3 linked regions of the Homo sapiens genome follow. The protein of the gene in region 2 purifies or fractionates together with the protein of the main gene of each other region. This does not show direct contact. Each region holds a gene or a part of one and is shown on either strand. Other genes may lie near its edges.

Evidence for each region.
Region 1: the proteins of KCNA2 (region 2) and CYP51A1 purify together in Homo sapiens (co-immunoprecipitation; 2 studies listed by BioGRID and IntAct, with this or other methods). This does not show direct contact.
Region 3: the proteins of KCNA2 (region 2) and SARAF purify together in Homo sapiens (co-immunoprecipitation; 2 studies listed by BioGRID and IntAct, with this or other methods). This does not show direct contact.

Annotation. Positions count from the first base shown.
Region 1 is NC_000007.14:92,132,403-92,136,221, forward strand, and holds the start of CYP51A1 (lanosterol 14-alpha demethylase), read right to left. Parts: upstream 2,076-3,819; 5' UTR 1,963-2,075; coding exon 1,771-1,962; intron 1-1,770. UniProt on the Homo sapiens protein: Sterol 14alpha-demethylase that plays a critical role in the cholesterol biosynthesis pathway, being cholesterol the major sterol component in mammalian membranes as well as a precursor for bile acid and steroid hormone synthesis.
Region 2 is NC_000001.11:110,604,404-110,608,003, reverse strand, and holds the start of KCNA2 (potassium voltage-gated channel subfamily A member 2), read left to right. Parts: upstream 1-1,645; 5' UTR 1,646-1,776; intron 1,777-2,281; 5' UTR 2,282-2,613; intron 2,614-3,058; 5' UTR 3,059-3,221; coding exon 3,222-3,600. UniProt on the Homo sapiens protein: Voltage-gated potassium channel that mediates transmembrane potassium transport in excitable membranes, primarily in the brain and the central nervous system, but also in the cardiovascular system.
Region 3 is NC_000008.11:30,076,253-30,080,071, forward strand, and holds part of SARAF (store-operated calcium entry-associated regulatory factor isoform 1 precursor), read right to left. Parts: intron 1-3,819. UniProt on the Homo sapiens protein: Negative regulator of store-operated Ca(2+) entry (SOCE) involved in protecting cells from Ca(2+) overfilling.

The sequences.
Region 1 (3,819 bases), on a different chromosome or scaffold from region 2:
TAAAGGCTATATAAACTGTTATTAAACTGTGTTTTTTTATTTGTATTATTTTTTATTGTTGTGTTATTTTGTATTGGGTTTTTTTCCCCTGGGTATTTTAGATCTACACTTGGCTGAATTCCCAAATGTGGAATTCGTGTCCCCAGAGGGCCCACTATATTGTTTCTTCACTACTTACTACTACTACTACTCACAATTTTAGTCCCAGATACTTGCTTAAAGAAGGTATAGAAAAAGACAAGCAGTAACTTGTAGTATAGAAAGAAGGGAAATGTTTAAGAAGCTATATTTACTTCTCAGTAAACAATCAATCTCATGCTTCTCTCACTGCAAGTGAACTAGAGCCACTGATTTTAGAGTTTTTAAGAGAGTAGATCAGCTCTAGCAAGAACTCTAGCATTCTTCATAAAAGTTTCTTTAGATGCCACAAAATGAGACCTGCAGATTACAACATTAAGTATCCTGAAAATCAAACAAAATAATGAAAAAGGGTAATACTCCTCAATTCTCTGGTGGTCTCAAATAGAAAGGAGCACCACAACCTCACAGTACACCTCAGCTAATAGAACTATCTTTAAACACTAAAAGTAACTTTGTCTTCCCAGAGACAAATATCATTTCCTTAAAGATCCCATGTGTAGGAAAAAAATAAATAAATAAATAACTCTTTCTTATGCCTGGTATGGTTCAAACAAAAATTATTTTAAAAGCTACTTGGTCAAAAGTTTGTACATTGCATTGTCAGTAAAAGGGTAGTTTTCAAAAGCTACTTATTGCTGACTGTAAAAGGCACAATCAAATAACATTTGGGAGATTGAAAGCTAGGTTAATAAGGCTGTTAAATTGAAGAAAATGATTTTTTTTTTTTTTGAGACGGAGTCTCATTCTGTCGCCCAGACTGGAGTCCAGTGGCGCAATCTCGGTTTACTGCAACCTCCGCCTCCTAGGTTCAAGTGATTCTCGGGCCTCAGCTTCCCAAGCAGCTGGGACTACAGGCGTGTGCCACCACATCCAGCTAATTTTTGTTTTGTTTTGTTGTATTTTAGTAGAGATGGGGTTTCTCCATGTTGTTCAGGCTGGTCTGGAACTCCTGACCTCAGGTGATCCGCCCGCTTCGGCCTCCCGAAGTGCTGGGATTACAGGCGTGAGCCACTGCTCCCGGCCGAGAAACTGTTACATTATTAGCATCAGAGGAAGGCCCTTACCACACTCCAGTCACTACCATTACCACACTCTACACATCCTCCTTAATATGGGTATAAACCACCATTAGGGGCACTGCTACAGCCCACAGAACACTGAACCACACAGGGCAGCCTCCAGGATGACGGGCCAGCTGCCAACAGCATCTCCGTCAGGACCCCCACCAAGGGCCCCAACGACCACCGGGTCGTTCAAACCCACAGCCGCCAATCCAGCCACCGCCACTAGGGGCACCACTGCTGCGGTCAGTACAGACCGCTACAACCACAAATGCCGCAACCACGACCCCGTCTAGGATCAGATACACAGCCGGGGAGGCCAGCACCGCCCCCCAACACAAGGCAATGGCGGGTGCTACAGCCAGCGCCACCAGCAGCAGTGCCGCCGCCGCAGCCACTACTCCAGCCCCCAGCGCGCCTGCCACCAAAGCCACGCCAAGCATGGCCGCAGTCGCCCCCGCCCTTGCCATCCACTGAGCCGGTCGGGGCCACGGAGCCGCCCACGCCAGCCCTTCGGCCGCCTCAGCTGCGGCGCGCGCCCCACTCAGACCCTAAAGAATGTACGTACCACCCCTGCGGGCAGCTGGACCAGGTGGCCGGCGGCCAGACGGATCAGGTAGACCAGGCTGAGGGTGAAGGCGCAGGCGATCAGCAGCATGGACAAGAGGTTGCCGCCTGTCACCTTCTCCATCGCCTGGCCCAGCACCGACCCACCCGCCTGCAGCAAGCCCAGCAGCAGCATCCCAGCCGCCGCCGCCATTCACTCCGTCGGAAACACTGAAGGCCGAGGTCGCCACCGCTCCTCCCAATCGACGGAACGAGAGAAGCTGGCAGATGGTCGTCCACAGGGGGCCTTGCCCCAGGTCTCCTACTAAACCCAGCCCCACCCCTCGGGTCCCACGCGCGCCACCCCGTGCGTCACAGAATGGGGCGGGATGTTCCGCTGGCCACGCCCCTTAAATAACACTCTGTGAAGCCGTGGTCTTCTTGCGCGGGATAGGGCACCTGAGGAAGCGGGCTGCGCCTGTGGCACAGTGGTACGGGGCCGGAAGATAACTTACCTGAAGAGGCGATCAATCCCTGAGAATCGCGGGCGACCCGTTTTTTGTGTGCCCGGGTGCGGGGTGCCGGGACACGGCGTTGAAGGCGCTGAGCGGAGGGATCTCAGGGCGAGCTCGAGCGGCGACGGCGCGCTCTGTGATTGCACCGCGAGCGCCTGAGGTGATCTCGGCCTACATCGCGTCAGCGGGGCCTTGGGCGTGAGCACCGCCCCCTGTCCGGACGCAGGGTACTGGGGCACCTCGAACTGTGGCACCTCACCCTTCTCCGGGGCCACGTCTTGGGGACTCCGACAGCCCCAAATAAGCCCTCGGGGACTGGGGTTGTGAAAAGCGAGGTCGTGAAGACGCCGGCCTCATACCGAAGGGTAGGACGGTGAGGTCAGCCCCGTCCCACTCCAACTAAAATCAACCTGACAGGTATTAATATGCCACCATGAAGTTAACAAATGTTGGTGATTAAGTATGCTAGGTTTTACGAAAACAGATTTTCCAAAATAAATGTACATGTTTTAGGACGTCGCGAGCCGTTTGAGGCAGCATTCCCCAAGGACGCCACTTAGTCTGTAGGTTTAGCGGCTAGAAAGATTCAGAAGCTGAGTTCAGTCCTGCCGCCACAATCAATCTTCGCTCCTATGGCTTCACAGAAGCGTCTCCCATGACTACCAAATTTAACTCCTTCCAGATCACCCACGGGAGCACCTGACCGGATTCATTTATTTAATCAATGTTAAGAACTAGGTTTTGTGCTAAGCTAGGGGATAGAGCAGCGAATGAGACAAAACTGCAAGGCCCTGGGGGAATTAGTAGGAATATCCAGTGAAAGGGAAATTAATGAATTTTATAAGTATACTAATCAAGAAGTATATTCTTTTCCTTTGAGGTAGAATGTAATATAGCACCTCCCCTACCCAAGGCCTGGGTTAAGAGTATATTAACTGCTTATTTCTCCCCTATGCGTGGAGAGGCTTATCTGTGTTCCATCGTTTCACATTCCTTGAGGCACAGCGAGTTCTTGCTTCCCTCCCTAGCGCTGCTGTAAAGTCACAAAACTGATTAGCAAGTGTTACAAAAGCATGTATTCCCAAGGACGTAAGACATATGGTGTAACAAATGTAAGAGTAATTTACTGCCTTTGTTCTTGCTTCTGCAAGTACACTTCATGCAACACGTAACTCCCAACACAAACTGCTTAAAAGGTGATTGATCCCTTTGTTCGGGGCTCAGACTTTCTGGACCCTAGTCCGACTGAGCCGGTGATCACCTTAATAATAAAGGCTCTCCTGAACTCTGCTCGGTCTCTCCCGTCTATGATTTGTCCCGCAACACCAGTTGCCTGCGGAACACCTCTACCTAGAGAGCTAACACTCATCCCCGGTCAGTAAATCCAAAACTAAACCCGTTGCCTCCTCCTACCAACCTGTCCCTCCTATAATGCCTGTGAAGAAAAGGCATCACTGTGCACACTGTTGCCCTCTCCATGCTTCATCTAATCAGTCATCAGATCCTATAATTCTACCACCTTAAAAGTTTCACCGTTTCTTCCGTCCAGTCGCGGT
Region 2 (3,600 bases):
CCAGCCCTGCAGTGCTGCCTGTTCCTGCGGCTCCTCTCGGTGGGGGCGAACACAGCAGAAGAGTTTCTGCCACACTGCGGACCGCACCTGCTGCATTTCCCTGCGAAGCCAAATCTTTGCTGGGTAACAGGGAGGTGGGAAGCCGATCTGGAGAAGGGGTCGCGCTGGCGGGAGAAAGGGCAAGAAAGGGGTCTGCAGATCCTGTCTGGAGGCACCACAATAATAGCAACACGTCTCTCCCGGGGCTGGATCCCGCTGTGGGCCTGGGGTAGCTGCTATTGATTATCTCCTCCTTGCCTACTTCATTACGTTGGCAGGAGCCTCTCACCAGTGCCCCTCAACTTCTGCCCTCCCCCATCTCCCCGGCCCGGCAGCACCCAGCTGAGCTCTCCTGGAGGTTCTGGTTAGTAAGTCGGGCTCTGCCAAAGAATGTTTTCCTCGCGGGGCGGGGGCTGAGGCCCGGGGGCCCAACGAGGTGACGAGCTCGGTGGCGGCGGAGGGCAGCTTGTCGCCCCGGCCCCGGCCCCGGCCCCCGCCGGCCCCTTTAATTCGAGTTCGCCGTCGAGCCAGGTGCGGCGCTGCGTGGCGCGGTGCGGCTGCGGGCGGCGGCCGGGAGCTCCGTACGCGCCGCCCGCGGGACTGCAGAGCCGGCTCCCGGCTGGCCGCCCGCACCCCGCCGCCGCCCGCTGCCGGGGTTCTGCCGGCGCTGGCCGTAACCTAGGAACATGGAGGCCCCGGTGCCCATCCGGAAGGGTAAATCCGTGTCGGGGCGTTGCGCGGCGCGTGCTGCCTTCCCTGCCCGGCTGCGGCGCCCAGAGGGGCTGCGGGGCACCCGGCGGCGCAGCCTGCAGCGCAGCAGGCTTGGGCTGAGTCCGCGGCGGCAAGCCCTTGCCGACCACTGCCGTCTGCTCGGCAGGTCCCAGACCGGGGAGATCAAGGGGAACTTGCACCCTGCTCAAGAAGAGTGCACAGAATGGGCTCGGGACCCTCTGGGGTTTGCGTGGCGCGGGGCGGAGGGCACGGAGAGGAGCTGGTGGGTGGTGGGAAGTGCAGCTGGCAGCATAACCATGTCTGGTAAATAGCGCGGGTTGGTAGGACCTGAACCACTTGGGACGGCCGGGCTGCATTCGCCTCTTCGGCACAGAATAACAAACGGCTTTGCTGCAGAGAGGGCTTTCCCCTTCGCTGGGGCCGTGGGCTGCCGCCGAGCCCCCGCGCTTAAAAGGAAGCTGAGATCTGGGGCGGCAGCCTGGCGCAGGCTACTCCCCACCCCCAGAGATCAGGTTCCGGGATTTTGGGTTGGACACTGAGCCTCGGCGGTCCCTCGGCTGGACGCCGGGGGCTTAAGAGCTGAACTGCGCTTGGGCCCGCAGCAGGAGCCGACCGCGCGGGCAGGAGGGGGTTAAGGTGGCGCTAGCGGCCGCGGCCAGCGGGAGGGTCTGGTCCTCTGCGCGGAGGCGAGCGCTGAGTGCGCCGAACGGAATCCCGGCCGGAGCCCGGGGCGATGGGGAGAGGGCCCAGACCCCTCCCCGCCCTGGGGCCGGCGGGATTGGGTCGGCAGGGGGCCAGTCCGGAAGCCGGCTTCCTCCAGGCTCCCCCTCTCGCTGCTGCCAAGCCGCCTCGCAGCTAGGCAGGCGGAGCGTTTATTCTGTGCTCCCTGCCGAGGAGATGTGAGGGATTTTCTCTTGGGGGAGAAATCAGTGGTCGAGCGCCTGCCCAGCTCAAATGCCACCCGGCTCAGAGGGAGGCCTGCGGCCCAGGGATCCCGGAGGGAGAGTAAGTTCATCCAGTTTTCGTACAGTGCAGACTTTGTTGTGTGGGGTCTCCCTAGATGCGCTCTGAAGGAGTGTGTGTGCTGGGGGGTGGGGTGCTTCTTTTCCAGGACTGGCTGAGGTCAGAGCTTGTAGACAGGCTGCAGTGAGCTAAGCCCTCCTCTTGGGAGCTGCTGTGTCCTGACATGTGGGGGTAGGAGTGCTTCTTCCAGAGTCCTTCCTGAGAGCAGCTGGGGACTAGCAACCTGGATCAACCCAGGGAGGCCCCTGGAGAAGGCAGGCCCAGCCAAGCCTGAGTCTTGCTCCCTGGGAGAAAATGCTTCAAGCTGATGGGAAGCCTGCCCAGAAGAGGCAAGGAGGCTGAGGGATAGTCCTCAGGCCTGGCATCAGAATAGAGGATGGGCATGGGGGCCTGTTACCTCCCATGAGGGAAGCTGCCAGACCCTCCTAAATCTTGGCACCAGCTGGTTCAAATGCCCTGGTTCCACCTTGCTGCTGTTTTTTTCCAGGCAACGTCACACCTCCTGAGGACAGCCAGGACTCCAGCTTTTGCTGAGCTTTGCATCTTGCCTCCTTCCTTCAAAAGGCTCCAGGCCCATGCTCGGCTGTCTTCAAGTCCCGCATGCCCCTGGCCAGGCACCTCACCGCCCCTCCAGCCCAGCCCAATCCTAGAGCTCACCTCCAGGACCCAGAGTCTGCCCTTCTGCCCAGAATGACTCACCATTATTTCTAGCTCGAGTGAGAAGACGTGATGAGGAGTTGGGCTGCCTGTTGGTGCATCTCAGATTCCTGCAGCATCTGATCAGCTCTGCAAGGAAGAGAGCTTCACGTCTCTGGTCAGGTAAATCAATCTATCATTTAATAACAGCCTTGTGTAGAATCACTGGGGTGGAGGCCAATGAGAAAGACCCAGGCCCAAGCTCCCCAACCATGAATACCTCCCTGGGTATGAGTATCTGAGACATTAGTGCAGCACCTGGGAGAGGGTCCACTTTTAACCTATTAGCATGGGGTTATGCTCCATGAAGCCTGTGTGCTACAAGCGGGCCTGTACCAGCCACCTTCCCCCAATGCAGGGCATTCCAGAGGTTCCTGGAGAGATTGCTACCTGCTCCCCCTGATCCCCAGACAAGTTACAAGGTGAAAGTAAATTTTGCTTTGTCGTTGTGGTGGTGGTGATCATGTGTCTGAACTCTTGGCTGAGAGATGGGAGACAAAAAGTGGCAACCCAGGTCAGGCTGCCAATGCTGAGTAGCCTCATGTCAATAACTGCCTCTGTCTTTCAGCCAAGCGAGGCTGTCTCTCCAGCTCTCAGAGAGCTCTCGGGGCTCTCCTGCAGGAGACCAGGCCAATGCTCCTGTGCTTCCTGGGGCCAGTAGCAGCACCCTGAGCTCCCTGCCACCAGGCAGCTGAAAGGCATAGCGTGAGGTGCTTCTCTCAGTCCCAATTATGACAGTGGCCACCGGAGACCCAGCAGACGAGGCTGCTGCCCTCCCTGGGCACCCACAGGACACCTATGACCCAGAGGCAGACCACGAGTGCTGTGAGAGGGTGGTGATCAACATCTCAGGGCTGCGGTTTGAGACCCAGCTAAAGACCTTAGCCCAGTTTCCAGAGACCCTCTTAGGGGACCCAAAGAAACGAATGAGGTACTTTGACCCCCTCCGAAATGAGTACTTTTTCGATCGGAACCGCCCTAGCTTTGATGCCATTTTGTACTACTACCAGTCAGGGGGCCGATTGAGGCGACCTGTGAATGTGCCCTTAGATATATTCTCTGAAGAAATTCGGTTTTATGAGCTGGGAGAAGAAGCGATGGAGATGTTTC
Region 3 (3,819 bases), on a different chromosome or scaffold from region 2:
CCCAAGTGACTGTGTGCACTCTGACTGCTGAAAGCACAGTTCTCCTTCCCCACATGGTGCACAAAATGCTAACAGCCATCCCCTTGTCCTCTGTGGGAGACTGGATGACTATTCCCTTGGTAATCTAACCAAGAAGAAGTACCTAAATACACTGACATCAGGAACTTCCTCCAAAAAAGAGCAACCTAGGTCACCCTGTTGTGAAGTTCAAAATCAAAAGTGCAACTGCACACTGATAGCTTCCAATGAGCTTTTTGGTTCCCCAGAATTAACCATGAGCAGGGAGCCAAGGATTACTAAAAATATGAGGAAAGTCCCTGCTATGGTTTGAATGTGTCCCCCAAAGTTCACATGTTGGAAACTTAATCCCCAATGCAACAGTGTTGAAAGATGGAATCTTTAAGAGGGCTCTGCCCTCATGAATAGATTAATGCTGTTCTTGCAGGACTGGGTTAGTTATCGCAGGAGTGGACTCCTGATAAAAGGATGAGTTAGGCCCCTTTCCCCTCTCTCACTCTCTCCCTTCTGCCTTCCACCATGGGATGACACAGCAAGAAGGCCCTCACCAGATGCTAGCACCTTAATATTGAACTTCTCAGCCTCCAGAACTGTGAGAAATGAATTCAGTTTTTTAATAAATTTCCCAGTCTGTGGTATTGTGTTACAGTAACATTAAACAGACAAAACAGCCCCTAACATGAAATACAGCAACCAGGACAAAACAACAACAAAAGGAAGCAGGAGGAAAAAAGAGATGACGCACAAGAAGAAAACTTTTTTAAAAACACTGTAATATCCTCAGAGAGATAAGAGAAAAAGACTGCGTTAATAAAACAATCATTTTTAAAAGGGATACTCAGAGAAAAAACAAGAGCTTTTGGAAATTAAAAACAGGACAGCCAAGATTAAAAACAACAGAACTGCCAGGTGCAGTGGCTCATGCCTGTAATCCCAGCACTTTGGGAGGCCAAGGCAAGCAGATCACTTGAGCCCAAGAGTTTAAGACCAGCCTAAGCAACATGGCAAAACCCTGTCTCTACAAAAAAAATTATAACATTAGCCAGGTATGGTGGCACACACCTGCAGTCCCAGCTACTTAGAAGGCTGAGGTGGGAGAATCACCTGAGCCTGGGGAGGTCGAGGCTGCAGTGAGCCATGCACTCCAGCCTGGGTGATAGAGTGAGACCCTGTCACAAAACATAAATAAATAAATACATACATACGACAGAACTGTTAAAAGAAAATCTTCTAGAAAGTAGAGCAAAAAGAGGCCGGGCGTGGTGGCTCATGCCTGTAATCCTAGCACTTTGGGAGGCCGAGGCAGGTGGATCACGAGGTCAAGAGATCAAGACCATCCTGGCGAACACGGTGAAACCCCGGCTCTACTAAAAATACAAAAATTAGCTGGGGATGGTGGCGCGTGCCTGTAGTCCCAGCTACTCGGGGGGCTGAGGCAGGAGAATTGCTTAAACCCAGGAAGCAGAGGTTGCAGTGAGCCAAGATTGTGCCACTGCACTCCAGCCTGGCGATAGAGCAAGGCTCCATCTGAAAAAAAAAGGAAAAAGAAAAAAGAAAGTAGAGCAAAAAGATAGAAAGTAGGAGAGAAAGGCTGGGCACAGTGGCTCACGTGTGTAATCCCAGCACTTTGGGTGGCCGAGGCAGGCAGATCACAAGGTCAGGAGTTCGAGACCAGTCTGGCAAATATGGTGAAACCCCGTCTCTACTAAAAATACAAAAATTAGCCAGGCATGGTGGCGGGCACCTGTAATCCCAGCTACTCAGGAAGATGAGACAGGAGAATCGCTTGAACCCGGGAAGCAGAGGTTGCAGCGAGCCGAGATGGTGCCACTGCACTCCAGCCTGGGGGACAGAGCTAGACTCCGTCTCAAAAAAAAAAAAAAGAAAGAAAGAAAAAAGACAGTAGGAGGAAAAAAAAAAAAAAGAAAGAAAGAAAATTACCAGTTCAGGACCAGTTCAGAAAGTCCAAAAATCCAACAAGGGCTTCTGAAAGAATGAACAAGGGAATCTGATTAGACAAACTCCAGGCTGTAATTCAAGAAAAGTTCCCACACTGAAGGACTTGAGTTGTCATACTGAAAGGGCCCAACAAATACCCAGGCCTGAGAAACAGACCACACAAAGGCACACGAAAAGTAAATTTTAGAACACTGAAGACAAAAAAAGATTCTACAAATTGCCAGAAGAATAGGGAGAAAACAAGCCATATAGAAAAGATAAGACTTAGAAAAGCTTCAGGTATCTCAACAGGATAGAAAAAGAAAATGGAGAAATATATTCAAAAACTCTAAAGGAAAAAGTCTGGCTGGGTTTGCCAACCATCGCTTTGCTAATGGTGGAACAAACTGATGTTACAACATCTCCTATGATGTATTTCCCACAAGTATTTAATATGAATCTAATCAATCTAATAAACTTAAGGTCAATACCCTATCTATATAAAAAATATATATAGAGAGAGAGACCTAAATATACTTCCAACCAGGAACCCAATAGGGTTTTTTGGGGAAAGAAATTATGTTAAAGGTCCTGTGGACAATTTTTTTTTGAAAAAGAACACATAGGTTACCAGATAGTAAAGGTTACTATAAAATTATTATCATCAGCCAGGCACGGTGGCTCACGTCTGTAACCCCAGCACTTTGGGAGGCCAAGGAGGGCAGATCACCTAAGGTCAGGAGTTCGAGATCAGCCTGGACAACATGGTGAAACCCCATCTCTACTAATAATACAAAAATTAGCTGGACGTGGTGGCATACGCCCGTAGTCCCAGCTACTTGGGAGGCTGAGGCAGGAGAATCACTTGAATCCAGGAGGTGGAGGTTGCAGTGAGCTGATATTGCTACCACTGCACTCCAGCCTGGGCGACAAGAGTGAAACTCCATCTCAAAAAAAAAAAAAAAAAAAAAGATTATAATCAAAATAGTAGGGAATTGGAACAGAGACAAGGAAATTGTGAAACAAAAGAAAGATCAGAAATAAATCAAGATACATTTGGGAATTCAGTAAGATGAAGTGGTCTTTTTAATTTAGTGGATAAAAGATGTCTTCTTTAATAAATAGCACTGGCATAATTGACTATGCAGCCACAAGAAAATCCACCTAAAGCTATATAAAAATTTAATTCCACATGGGCTACAGATCTAAAATTTCCAAGAACTATATTCAAATAAACCATGCTACATTAAACACAAACTACTACCTCCTCATACATAAAAAATAAGACAATGAAAATGTTCAATGGTTTAGAAAAATCAGACTGTATTAATCAACTAAATAACAGAAATAATAAATTGAATTTATTGTAACAGAGTTGCAATAATGCAAAGAACACTGAACTAAGTTGGTGTCACTAACTGGCTGTGACTTTGGCCAAGGCATTTAATTTACCTGTGTAGAAGTTTCCTCACCTACAAAATTAAAATATTATCAACCTTGAAATTTGTTGTGAAGCTTAGATATAATTTATTATCTGGCTGAGTACTTGAAGCATAACAGGTGATCAGGTATGATAAATATTACTGAAAGTTTTAAGATGGAATAGCATTACCATAATCCTATAGCATCTTTCTTCCCTAGAGATTCTTAAGGTCCAAGAACAAAATTCTAATACCCACGCCCCACTAGTTAGATCAGTCAAGGGACACAGGAGCTCCCTGAACTCCAGACTCATAAATCAAAATCACGGCAGGTCTCAAACAAGATAAACAAAACCAAACTCCCCTAAACCTGATCATCCCACATTCTTCCACATCTCAGGAAATGGTTAACTCCATGCTTCTAGTTGCTCAAGCCAAAAAC